2 linked regions of the Homo sapiens genome follow. Each later gene encodes a partner of the first gene's protein in a complex. Each region holds a gene or a part of one and is shown on either strand. Other genes may lie near its edges.

Region 1 (7,138 bases):
GTATTTGGGTGAACAGGAGATAGCGTAAAAACAATTGAAATGGTGATCTGTTAGGGTTTTTTACTAAAGGACAAAATAGATGCATGATCAGGGAGCTAATTGTAAGCCCAAAAATGAGAGATTTAAAAATGCTGAAATACACTAAAAGATTAGGAAATATAATTGGCTTTATTGAAAGTACACTTAATTTTTGCTCTCTTCATTGCAAATCCCCCCAATTCTTTTTTCCTTGCAGATGCGTCTTTTTGTTTTCTCTTCTTATTAGGGGATTTAAAAATTTTATTTTCACTCTTGAGGTAAAAATAAATAAACTTGTATTTTTTGTCATACACTTGAAACTTGCGGCCATATGTTGAGTGCATAAGCCTGTGTCACCTTTAAAAAAATAGAATTTTTTTAAGTCTCCAATATAGTTTCTTTTTTTATTTTCTGAGAATTTTCTGGCAATTTTTAGTTAGGGGAAAATAATTTCTGTAAGAAGTGTCATCTTGGCTTGGGTTGTAAAAAAGACACGTGGTTCTGATGCTGACCTTTCTCGATCCTTTGTCTTAAAAATATTAATGCCTACTACCTTCATGTGGAGTTGTGCTCTTATGGAAGCACAAGGCTGAATGTGCATTTATTAAGAAGTGAAAATCCAATTGGAAATATTTCTGCAAAAAACATCTGACTAAGTAGCAGTTTTAATGATCAGAATGTCCATATATCTCATAGTAACATAACAGCTAAATCATTTAATATTTAAATTTTTGAAAGGGTAAAATTAACATAGATGAGGAAGTAGCTGAAAAATTACTTTGAGAATTGTTGATTTACAAGACAATTTAATATCTCATTTTTTAAAAAGCTAACAAACAACTTAACCATTCATTTGTGATCTCAGTCCCATTCATTTTTACCTGCCATTCATTCAAGTCATTCTCCTGGCCAGATGTAGATGGCCTTGCTTCTGTTTGATGGTTTGCACAAAACCTTAAAACTTTTTCTCTCCCAATACTCCTTCCTTGGTCCTTTGAAAATTAGGGTGTTGTTATGAGAGGAAGGCCAGATTGTTGTGAGATAATAACAATAGAATATTTAGAAAGAGAGAGAGAGAAAGAAAATGAACTGCGCATTTGCCTTTTAGTTCTAAACTTAGTCTTGAAATTGGATTTGGGACACTTTGGACTTCAGATATTTTAAACTTAGGATTTCTATTAGGTATAAGCTATTTGAAATTTCACATCTAGAAATTATTGTTTGAATGGTGCTTTGTATGTGTGTGTTCAATATCTCTAAAAGGACTTGTGGATGAATTGAGATGTTTTTCTCAAGTTAGAGTTACTGTGAACAACAATGGGATTTCCTCAGAGTAAGTCTTTTTTTTTTTGGTTTGATTTCTTCCCTTTACACTTATTTCCTTATTATAGGTGGGTTCTTTTCCTATATGTAGGCCAAATACTATTTCTTCCATGAGGAGATATGCTGCTTCATTTAGCCCTGAGCATCTTAACACCTTATTTTAATTTTTTTAAAAAAAGAAACAAATTGTCTGTATGTACCTCAAGTAAGAAATGGTTGTCTTCATAGAGGTCATCATACATAGACGAAAGTACTTTGGCCTTGACAAATTTCTTCATTAGCTCCAATGATCTGTGGCCACCAGGCAGTTAATTTATATGCCTAGACATTTAATATGTACATTTGTTGGTGAGCTGGCCAGAGGATGCTAAACACACGAGTATGCGCTGGCAAATGCTGCAATGCAGTATTTTTTTCCCAATGTCATTGGGAATTTTGGGGCTAGGAAGGGACATGAACATTTTCAAGCTTTTATCTTACTATTGTCCAGTCGATGGGCCATGTTGTACAGATTTGGTCAATTCTCCTTTTGAAAGTAAAGTCAACCTTTTATTTACCACTATCCATTCCCCCATCCATGTAATGTATATGTGGAAAGTGTGTGTGTGCGAGAAAGAGAAGCAGAGAGACTCTGTGTGTATCAGTATAAGTGTGTTGCAGATTCCTGCACCTGTCTTAGGCTTTCCTTATTTGGTATTACTAAACATGTATACACACTTACTTGCAAGTATATGTGCATCTATAAATGGAGAGAAAACCAAACTGGGCTGCTTCCCATAAGAACTGGTTTCTCTTCATGACTCCAAGAGTTCTCATATTAGAAAAATATGAAATTTCAAATATTCATTAAAAAATATATATTCAGACCCTGCAGTCTGTTAGTAACCAAACACCTTTCTTTAGCTGCCACTTAAGAAATTATAAGTGTGCAAATGCATAACAATGTTTGTGAGCTAAAAGCCATCCCTTCAATCAAGGGCCTGGGTATGAATTAAAATGTGTGTATGTGAGTGTATATGGATATGTGTATATGTATGGGGGGCGGTGGGCAGGATGTTTTTCTTTGAGGGCATTTGAACCTAGTCTTTACCATTGGTAAAAATAAGGAGGCGGTAAGATGGAAGTGTTAACATCTGTGCTTTGCTTTGTAAGTTGGTGTGCAAGTGTGTGTGTATTAGGAACATCCTTATATTTGTGAAATCTCCACGTATTTTAGGGGTAAAGGGCTTTTATAGGTCACTGGCTTTCTAAGGGTAAAAAAAAAAGAAAAGGTGATCTGTGGGTGGGTGGGAGTCACAAGCAGTAATTGTCTTAAATTAGCTATTTAGCAGTGAAAAGGAAAAAAAGGCTGGAAGACAAGAGTGTAGAAGAGTACCAACATGTGGGTCTGCATCTTTCCGGTATAGGAGATAATGAGTGATAAATTTGAACTGGTGCAGTGCAAGATGCCCGATAATTTCTCTGAACCTTGACTTTGCAGGTCCATTACTTCCTTGCTTGCTTGTTCACACCTTTAATTATATCCAGTTTGGGATGCTAGCTGGGGGCACCACAGATAAGCCATTTTGTTTGTTGTTTACTTCATTAAGTATTCAGGCAGTGTATTCACAGTAGCTTTGGAGCATCAGTGTTAGGAATTGAGCAGTTTGGAAATGGAATTGTTAAAAAAGAACAAAAAAATAAGACAGCAATCAGCCAGCTAGCTTGCTTTGGATGTTCACATCCACTCTGCTTAATGGTAATATTTATGCTTTCCCTTGCACATTAATTAAGAAATAACTTACGCAGTGTCAGGGCTCTTAATAGGCTGGTGACTTTCTCTCTCTTTCTCTGTCTCTGTCTCCGTCTCTCTGTCTCTCTCTCTCTCTCTGTCTCTCACTCTAGCTCCAGCTGTCTCTTTCTCTCCACCCCACCCTTGAGACTGTCTTTGCTCAGAACATTTTAAGACCAACCAATTTTGCTTTAGGGGAGCTCATATTCAGATCCTTGTTGTATCTAATACCAAAGGTATTTCTCCCCTCAATAAAGATCCCCCTCTACAAGGATCAAGAAATGCTGAGAGCCCTAAAGGAATCCTTAAATAAATTTTGGTTGAGAAAGCAGTAGAAGTGTTGAGGAAATAAGGTCAGTGTAATTTTTGTGCTTGCGTTTTTGTTTTTTGTTGTTTTTGGAAAGTCTTATTTTTAACCCCAAAAGTAAAATGCAAAACTAGCATATGGGATTTTTTTAATGAAAAAAATATATATGTCTTAGGTCTCTCCTGAAAATAACCTCCCTTGGACTCTTCATTTGAAAAATAACATGTAAACTTTAGCTTAATTTTTGAATTACTCATTTTAAACTATAAAATATAGTTCATAAATATTTTTTCCATAGGAAGTTTAGTTCTTTTTTCAGGCTATGGGGAAGCAGAGAAATGACCCAGCGAAGATGGTGAATTCTGAAAAAAACACAGCATGGAGGTTTCCTCTGTTTGCACTTCGTAGCATTGAATCTTCTCCTGCTTCTATGAGTTATCCTTTAGCCCTTAAAGTTGTTTTGCCAACAGTGTTCATAATAGAGACTGACTGTCATTCCTTGTTGGGTGAAGATGTATTTGTTGAGGACTTACTATGTGCATTTCTTTGGAACGTGGAATCCAAGGTCACCATTTCTTTTTCTTTTGACAATGATCAGAAGACATAATTAATTAGAGGATAAGTCCCTGTGATTGGAGATGAAGTTAGGGTGAGGGATTTTTAAGGTGGCACATTGCACAATGAGGTTTGTGTCAAATAGTAAGAAAAGGTCTGCTGGAACATTCAAGTACATAAATGTCTTTCCTTCTGTATTTATAAGCATCTAGGTGTGACTCCAAAAGATAGAAATAAGAGATCTTTTGGACATTTTAGTCTATAAGGTTTCATGTGTCCACATCTTCAGCCTCAGGAAGAAATATAGAAGTTTGGACTGTTGAAAGGAACTTGTCTTTCAGTCAGCAGCCCATGAAGCTTGGCTGAAACTGGTTAATTTTACAGAAACACGAATGTCTTGCCTCCTTGCTTCTGATGTAAGTGGCTTTTTGAATTCCTTTTCCTCTGTTACCTCCCAGGAGCATCTGAACAGATAGTGACCGTTTTGGCATGCCAAATTGGAAGTTTGCTAGTGGAGCAGAAATCATAGTTACTTTGTCATATACATCTAAATACTGTGGTGTGTGTGTGTGTGTGCGTGTGTGTGTGTGTGTGTGTGTGTGTCATGTGTTGTAGACAGCTGGGAGCCCCGGTGTGCCGTGGGATGTGCCAATAATGGCTTCTAAAGTACTCTGTGTTTTCCTAAGCTGCCAGTCTAAACCCTTTAAAGGTTTGCTTTCTAATTTGTACATGAAAAATAACAGGCTGAGTTGAACTTTTTTTTTCAAGTGCCCCCTTTGAAGATGCAGCAGTAGTAAATACTGCTCTAATGATAAACTTTAGTTCTAAGTGCTACTTAAAAGTCTGTAGTAGAAAGGCTGAGAACTTGCCATCTTTACTAATGAAGCTTTCCTTAGGAAAATGCTCACTTAAAAGGGAGTAAATGACCAAGTCCCTGAAATTTGTGATTTTTACCAGATTTGACTTATCTTTTCTTATTTTACTTTTTGTAATGCAGCCAACCACACATCCAAAATTCTTGGTATTATACATGTCTTCAACATTAATTATCTCTGTTGATGCACTGGGTACAGATAGTACAGTTCCCACAAGTCCAGATTCTTACTGTAACACCAAAACAAAAGTGATATTTATGAATAATATTGGGAAAGTTGTCCTCATAGTAACCATTCCCCAAAGGAAGCTTTACATAAATGTGCACTTATTATTCAGGATATTAAAAGGGAATCGTTAGCTTTTACTTTTTAATTTGGGCTAAAATATGTAAATTGGTTTTATTTTGGAGTTTCTCTGTTTTAGGTGACTTTGGGGGAGGATAACTTTCTAGCTTGATTATATTTTAATCACCTCTCTAGTGGAAAAGTTAATCTTAAAAGCAACCTGCTTATTGTGATTAGGACCCAGAGGGCCTGTGTTCAGATGGGGCTAAAAACATATTATATTGACCTGTACACACGTAGAAAAATTAGATTTATTTCTACTAGATACCGCTATTACCATGCCTTTGTTGGCAAGGCTATCTCAGAGACCAGAGAACCGTGAGTCTGCCTCTGGCCTCCGAGGAACATCACGGTGTGCCTGTACAGGCAAGCCTCTAAAAAGATTGTTCTTTGTCTTAAGAAACTGGCAAGTGCAAAGGACTTCAGAGTCAGTTGAACTTAAGTTGGAATCCTAGCTCTTCCAGTTACTAACTGGGCAATCACAGATGAGTTACTTCAACATGAGCCACAATTCCTCATCTTTAAATGGTGATGACAATATCTAACTCACAGGGTTTCTGCAAGAATCAGATGAGAAACAGTATTTGAAGGCACCAGTCATACATAGGACTTGAAAATTGAAGGTGCTTTGAGGGTGTTAAGTCTCTTTCAGTCTGTCAGTCTTTCTGTCCCTTGGCAAAAGCCCTTCCCCAGAAAGAGGCCCATCTGCCCATGCCAGATGTCCTGGGCAGTGACATTGTATGCTACCCTCACTGTCTCCATACTGTCCCCAGCATGCAAGAAGGGTGGCACACAGTGTTGTTGTTTTTTTCTATATAGACAAGCCCTCAGTTCTTCCTCGGAATTGTATGGCTTTATTAAGTTTTCTGCATCCTCCTAGGATTTCACAAGCTGTATCCATGATCTCCTTTGGAATTAGAATTCACTTGGGATTTAGTTGTCAAAAGAGAAAAACGATGAAGATAAAATTAATTTTAACCAGTGCTGTTTTTTTAATTTCATGAAAGAGCCTGTTAGGAAAGTTAAAAGTCAGCCAGAAAGAAAATAAAAATAGGCTGAGCTTAATTGATATGGTCCCATCTTTGCTGTCTGTATATTGTAACTTGCAAATTATTTGACTTTTTCCCAGAAACCAACTTACTTCAGATCTATTTTTTTTCCTTTTCACTGTATCAGCTGTTTTCCTCCTTTCCCCTTGTTTTCCCAATAGGCTGAACTTTGAAGTTCTGTTTCTCACGGAATGGTGAAGAGGTTGAGGCAAAAAGTGGCTTAATGAGATTTTTGTAACTTGCCATCAGTTTTCCTTCTGCTTGGCAAGGCAGCATGATGGATGGCTTTGGCAGTGTGAACACCTCTAGAAGTGATCAGATTGACTGAAGAGATGTGCAGGATGTCAGCAGAATGCTGACCCTCAATTCATTACCCTCCCATTTGAAGGAAAAAAAAAGAGAGAGAGAGAAAAGAGGAAAACAACCACAAAAGCCTTGGCGTAGTTGTTGATTACACACACTTGGGAAGGGGTAATGGGTCGCGTCAGGACTGGTGTTAGGTTAAACCTAATTTTGTACCTTTTCCCCAAGGGTCTGAAGGGGGAAATAAATAAATAGGCACCATAAATTAATTCACAAATTGTTCTAAATGGGGACCTGTTGCTGTGACCTGTTGCCGTTATGAAGAAATAATACAAATTGTCCTGAAGGGATTCAAGATTCAAATTGAAAACACAATCTTGAAACACCGATTTTGAATTCTACTTCATATGCTTACAGGAAGGATATAAAGGGAAGTCGATTTTTTTCTTCAATGTAATCCTTAAAGTAGGGGAAGGGGTTATTAGTTGATCTGATATCCCAAATGCCATTTTGCAGGTCCTATGCTAAAAAAAGAAAGAGAGAGAGAGAGAGAGAGGGAGGGAGGGAGGGAGGGAGAGAGAGAGAGAGACAG
Region 2 (7,000 bases), on another chromosome or scaffold:
AGAAGTGGGCATAAAGGTGGGTTCTGAGTGCATCTCTGGGAACTGGTTCCAGACCAGGGAACCAGGGGGAGAATGTGAGGACACTACAGAAGCAGAAGAAGTAGGGAACAATGTGTGCAGTCACCCCCTGGGTATCTAGGGATCCCCAGTTCCTGAATGCCTACTTTGTTAGCTTACCAAGAGCAGGACATGAAAATGAACATACCCATCCCAGCAGATGGGGGAGGTCACTCTCATTTCTTCCTTCCTCAGACCCCCAGGAGGATTCTTACAGTCCCCTTCATCCTGAATTCTTACAACACCTACCTTATATGCAGAGTTAGTTCCCCTCTCACCAATGTCCCTACTCTACATGTACACCTTTGACAGTAGCCGTAAAGTGTGAAATTTCAGCTAGGAACCTGGACCAAGTTCAGGGCATAAACGATAACAGAATAAATGGCCTGTTTCCCCTAAAGAACAATTAATAGCATTATCCACCATGCTCGCCTCATCTCTCCAAGCCTCTGTCTCAGAGAATGTACTGGGGGAATCTATAATCTAGGGGCTCTGTGGGGTTGCCCTGGTGAGCTTCATCTCTCTCCACTAAAAGGTGGCTTTTCCTTTCAACATACAGGTAGAGTTACCAAAGCACCCTACGCACAGATCCCCTTCAACATGCCTAGCCATCACTGTTCCTAGTGCCTTAGATATATAGCCCAAGCTGACACACACACAGTTCAAAGACAACCTCTCATGGACACATTTTCAGGCATCTGTACACTTGATCAGTTCTAATACTCATGGAGCTAACCACAGCTATATGGGGCAGGGTAGGATACAACTGTAAAGCTTCAAAGGAGGACAAACAATGGCTAGGGCAGGAGGGACAGAAGTCAATATCTACAACAAAATAATAACAATAAGAGCTATTGTGTACTACTATTAGGACCACTTCTTTACAGTTACGGAAATTGAGCTCAAGCTTTTAAACACTGAATTCTCCTGGGAGGAAGACCTTTCCTCCAGACCCCAGTAAAGGATGAGTGAGAGACCTAGGGTAGGTCATTAAGACTCTGACCTAACAGCACTTCTTCCCTCCTGGAGCCTTAAGAATTTTGAATGATTCCTTTCCTCCTTGTTCCTCTTTGCCAAAGAGGTCAGACCACACAAACAACCATTACACACATATTTCTGAATTCTCTGATTTCTCCCCTTAAAGATCCTAACTATATCCAATCAACTAAACTAAACTATCCAATCAAATTTCACTCAGACTTAACATTTTCCATTTCAAGTGGCCAAAACATCCAAATGAGTGATTGAGTTGGTTTTTGTTTTTGTTTGAGACACAGTCTCGCTGTTACCCAAGCTGGAGTGCAGTGGTGCGATCTCGGCTCACTGCAACCTCCACCTCTCAGATTTAAGCAATTCTCTGGCCTCAGCCTCCCGAGTAGCTGGGACTACAGGCATGCACCACCACACCTGGCTAATTTTTGTATTTTTAGTACAGGCAGGGTTTCACCATGTCGGCCAAGCTGGTCTTGAACTCCTGGCCTCATGTAATCTGCCCTATTCGGCCTCCAGAAGTGCTAGGATTGCAGATGTGAGCCACCGTGCCTGTCCTGAATGAGTGATTGAGTTTTTAACCAAAATTAACTCAAAATGAAAAAAAAAAAATTTGAAGTTCTCCTTAACCTTCTTTTCATAAGGAAATGTAGAGAGGATTGACTAGAATCCACTAACCAGACATGGTAGAAAGGGAAAGAGAAAATGTAGAGCTTCCCCTCTTCTCCTGCCTCCTCTATTATGGGATTTTTCTCCACAACCCTCCTCTAAACTATAAGCAAAATTTCCAGCCATCCCATATCAGACACCATCCCTTACATGCCTTCCAGCCACCAAAATGCCACTTGTCTAATAACCAGACTTGTCCTAAGGGGTCTTGAAAATATCTGCACAATCCACTCAAAACTTCTCTTAATCATCGAGCTGTTTGCTCTCTATTTCAGTCAAAAGCAGTTTGCTTACGACCAGCCATGCTCCTGGGAACCTGGATTTCCCAAAATGCAAAAGGACTGCATTTCTGATGGTGTTTGTTCTGCACACAGTTACATTTCAGTGTGTTGCAATCAGGTTTTTTCCAACTGTATTAAAAGTATGAGGTCCAAACCTACTTTTCTGTGACTTACCTGTAATCAACATATATTTTGTCAGTCAACTATGGTTAGAGCAAAAGTTTGTTCCAGCCTGTTGTATTATTGCAAACCTACTGTGCTGCAAGGTAGTAAGCAGGTCTTACAAAGCAGGCTCTGCAATAAATTTTAATAGTAGGATGACCCCCCTTCTATCCAGTAATAAGTACATAGTCTCCTCTGATCAAAATCTGAAGGGCCATCCAAGTTCTCCTAGTAGAATGAAGTCACTACCTGGGGACTACGTAGCTTCCTGCTGGCATTGCCTCCTTGCCCTTGCGATGGTGTGTGTCAGGTGGTATCTTACAGGATCATTTTTAACCAAACTATCGGTAACCAAATGGGCATACACTTTCTTGAGTACAGGTTTGAGAGACCTTTCCTTCTGCTTTTTGTTTTGACAGGCATTTAAAAAGGTATAGGGGAGGAGAGGAAAGGTGGAAATGGATGGGGTGCAGAAGTTTTACACTAACATGGAGTCGAAGACTGGCTGAGACCCTGGACAACTGGAAGGCCTGTTGTCTCTCTTTTACAAGATAAACAAAATCCATGGATAGAACCTCTGACTACTATTACTGCCTCTGTTATTGTTTCGGTCAGCCTTCAGGACCTGTGGACAGACACAAACAGCTCATTTTGTAAAGATTGCAGGTTACTTAAATTGACACTTAACTCTTTAAGGTTCTATTTCTCAGGCCAAGACCCCAGCTACTGGGAGAGAGGAACAGCTACTTGCACTTCCATTTTCTCTCCAACTGTCTCATCCTATTTTCCCTTTACCTACTCTTCCTCTCTTCTTGCCTCTTTTCACTTCACATTTACCCACTGGCTTTTTGCCTTAGAATGGAGAGCTCCTGAGGCAGCCCAGGTGCTGGAAAGGGTCTGCAGCCCGCAGCCCGCAGCCGGTGAGGGGGAACCCTCTCGTGGGGTATCTGCTGCGAGGTTTGCGATCTGGGGTTCCCAGGACTAAGGCGCACCACAAGCGGCCTGGGATCTCCTGGGGTCTCAGGGATCTGAGAGGGGAAGTCCTCCTCGGAGACCCAGGCCAGCGGATGTTCTCTGTCAGGGGCTTGTTAAGAGAAGGCAGGCGGGCGGCCCCACCTCAGAGCGAGACGAGATTGCCGGGCTGGGACTGGCGCGGGGGCGGGCGGGGAAGGTTAGGGCCGCCGGGCCGGGGCGAGCGCTCCAGGAAGAGCCTGCAGCGCCGCCGCCACTTTCTCTCTCTCTACTCTCTCTCTTTTTTGAAAGGGGAAGGGAAGGCCGGCAACTCCAAAAGCAAATATAGCCTTGCCCTGAGCTGAGTCTACCACCCGTCTCCGACCCCTCTCCCGTGGGTAACACTGTGAGACTCCAGCCGCTCCCCTTTAAAAGGGAAGCGGGAAATCCACCCAACCCCGTATCTCCCCTCCCTCCCTCTCTCCCTCCCCCCTCCCCGTCTGGAATTTCCAAGCCGGGACTAACTCGTCTGATTTCTCCAGTCTCCCCCTGCTGCTTTTTTCCTCCCCTTTTCTCTCCCTAACACTCCCATCCCAAATTCTAAGCTGCACTTTCTGGAAAACATTAGCCACATTTCAAGAATCTTTTAAGAGGATAGGGAACGAACCACACTTATTTTAAATTCTAACAGCTGGGAAAATGTCCGTTCTTCAAATGCCTTTGGTTCATAAACTTATTCTAACAACCCCATCACCACCACTACCACCCCACACACAAAAATCAACAGATCTAACCACTAAATAACTCTTCACAAAACCTTTAAACTTCAACAAATAGCACTTGCTGTTCCCCACTTCTCACTCAACTAAACCAGATCTGAATTTTAAAATGTTTTAAAATTGTATACTCAGTAGACTACCTCAATAGTATCTTTGTCAACTGGCTGCTACACATTAAAGTATAGTATAAATACACTCTTAAAAAGTAAGCCTTAAAAGTACCCACACACATAGATTAAAATGATACATATTAAGGTAATTTTAAAAGATTAGAAGCTCAGAACCTTTGAATCAAGGTTCTTCCAATTGCTAATGTCATGTATTTAATCTCTGAAACATAATTATGTTTTTTTCCACCAAAAGCTGTGCCATTAAAACTTTACCTTTTCAACAATTAACAATACTTTGAATAAATTAGTGATGGGACTTGCAGTTCTTCCCCCTTTTTACTAAAAAGTTCTCCATCTGAGAAACCATTATGGTAAAATTTCATCTTTTTAATTTGGGTCAGAAAATAAGGGGTTCTAGAAACCTACAATTCTTCTAAGGGACAGTCAGTTGCCACTGCCCTTACAAAACTCTCATCTTGAAATACTGACCACCCAAATGAGAACAGTTAAGGATTTCTACCAGCAGTGAAGGAAACTAATTTATGAATTTGCAAAGTTTAATTTTTAGGTGGAAATTAAAATAGGGAAAGAATGTACCCCAGTTTCCACCTTTCCTCCAAACAGTGCACAAAAACTTAACATTCAACCATTTTTTTCACTTATGTAAAGCAAAAAAAAAAAAAAAATTCTAACCTAATATTAATAAGAAAACCTTTTTAAAAGAGTAATCAATTGTTTCTACTTTAAACTTCCATGTTGAATAGTAGTCACATGTTATCTTTTACCTCGTATGAGTTAAAAACTTTCTTTTTGACTTGGATACTAATTCATAATTACAACCATTAAAGTAAAAGTGCCTGAAAACCCTCCCGCTCTAGTAGTTTTCATTCCCTTTTTAACCCCTCTTCATTCATTTTCAGCCCCAAAGTACAAGGTAGGTTTTCTTTTTTCCTTAAGTGCAAATCCATTTCTGAAGACAATTTTTAGGTTGTTTTGAAAACATTTAGTGATCCAAGTGATTTCTTCAGAGCCTCAACAAATCATTGTTAAAATATATTTAAAATATTTTTTGCCATTTATAAGACATCCCTTCACAGATTTTTAAAGCTGTTAACTTCAAAAAATTAAACTGTAAAATTTGGACACTTTCTTTTGGGAGTTCTCAATTTTATGAACGATTTATAAAACTAATTTTGTTTAATAGGTACTTAAGGGAGTTAGCCCACCTCATTTTTAGTCAACATAGAGGAAAAGGACCATTAATCTGCCTAAAGAAATCACCAAACTTAGAATTCTTTAATGTGAACACATTTCACCTTTAAAAAAAATGAGTCAGTGCATCTCTTTCATTTTTTTCTTAATTAACAGTAACACCTTTTATTTTGATGACACCAGTTGACAGTGAATATGCTATCTTTAGGTCACATTCCTCTAGAAAAAGGCACACCACAGTGGCAAGTGTAACAAAGGTTTAATTCCCTTAAAAAGCAAATCATGTCTCAAAGTAATCAAGTCACACTAAAATGGTACCCCCTTTACCTCAACTACTCCTAAGTCTCTCAGAATAAAACATATACAAGCCCTTTCCACAACTGTTTTTAAATGCATTTGGTTTTTCTCTTTTGTCTCAGTATCTGGCAGTGAACATATACAAATTCTCAACAAAAAAGCACAAATTGTTAACCAAATTCCAACACTAAGGGGGTTTGAGATGGTGATCTCTAAGAAATTAGTATCACCTCATTTTAAAAATTCAAGCTAACTGCTGTTTTCAGTTGAAATGCATAGTGTTCGGCCTCTTGAGTTCTTAAAAAGGTACAAATTATATGTATCAAATAAATTCAAACTAAGAACAAAATACATTAAGAGGTATTGCTACAGCATATCTTTTGTTTGATTTCCCCCTCTTAAAAAACAAAACAAAACAACCAGGAACATTTAGTTGTTGGGTTTTTATGAATTATTTTAGAAATTGAAATCATAGTTCATTTGGAACTGAATGCCTCAAGAAGAGTTCATAAGGAAAATACAAGAGTATATATACACAAAATATTATTTGTATAGTTGTTCATTTTGCTTAGAATATATTAGTCATAATTAACTAGTTCCTGTTCTATACATCCATGAGATGGAAAGTCAGTAACAAACCTAACTGACGAAATACTTTTCAGACACAGACTAAAGACACATACCACAACATACTTCCTCAAAGACACAAAATGATAGAGCAAACTGACTTAATGAAAACAAACTTTCTTTTTTAAATCTTGAGACTTCAAAAATTGATTCATTCTAGAAAAATGAAGTGCCTTCTCACCACCAACCAAAATAAAAAGCAAAGAAAACACAACTGACTCAATGTTTGGGCTAAAAAAATTATTTCAGGAAGGGGAGAACACATAAAAGATCTAATTTAATATGGGTGTGGACAGATTTTTTTTTTTTACCCAGTCTTCTCACAAACCCCCTCTCCATTCCAACTCAAAAAAGAGCCCTCAGTAATGCATTTTGGAGGGAAAAAGGGCCTAGAAATGACTTAAAAGCAAGCAGATGGCTTGGGGAAAAAGATTCATAAATACAGGGCACCATGAAAATTAAAATATAAATGTTTTGAGTTCCATTTCATCACGTTTTGCTATTTCTCTTGCTTTTCACTTTATTCCCTAAAATTTAAACCATCCTCAAGAGCAAAAGAAAAAATCCACATATTTTAGAATTCCACTTATTCTGGATATTTTTCATCAACACTCAGCTTTCAGTTCAAATATCCATATCCTTTTCAATAAACCTGCTGGTGTCAGTGTATGTTCCTTAGACACATCTCCAGAAAATGTTTCAAAATAACAAATAAGACTTCTTTTCTTCCTTCCCATTTTATTGCCTCTTTACTCCTAACTCTAATTGCCTTTCCAATAACACGGTATTTCAAACATGTGAAGTTAAATCGCAAGCTCTATAAACATAGTAACAAGCCATATTGATCTATAGACACAATAGTTCC

What was found. The genes of interacting proteins can lie anywhere in the genome.
Region 2: ELAVL4 (region 1) and IGF2BP1 share a complex: the UniProt entries of both Homo sapiens proteins name them as parts of the TAU mRNP complex.

What each region holds. Positions count from the first base shown.
Region 1 is NC_000001.11:50,111,863-50,119,000, forward strand, and holds part of ELAVL4 (ELAV-like protein 4), read left to right. Parts: intron 1-7,138. UniProt on the Homo sapiens protein: RNA-binding protein that is involved in the post-transcriptional regulation of mRNAs. Plays a role in the regulation of mRNA stability, alternative splicing and translation.
Region 2 is NC_000017.11:49,000,385-49,007,384, reverse strand, and holds part of IGF2BP1 (insulin-like growth factor 2 mRNA-binding protein 1), read right to left. Parts: exon of another isoform or gene 2,579-7,000; intron 1-2,578. UniProt on the Homo sapiens protein: RNA-binding factor that recruits target transcripts to cytoplasmic protein-RNA complexes (mRNPs). This transcript 'caging' into mRNPs allows mRNA transport and transient storage.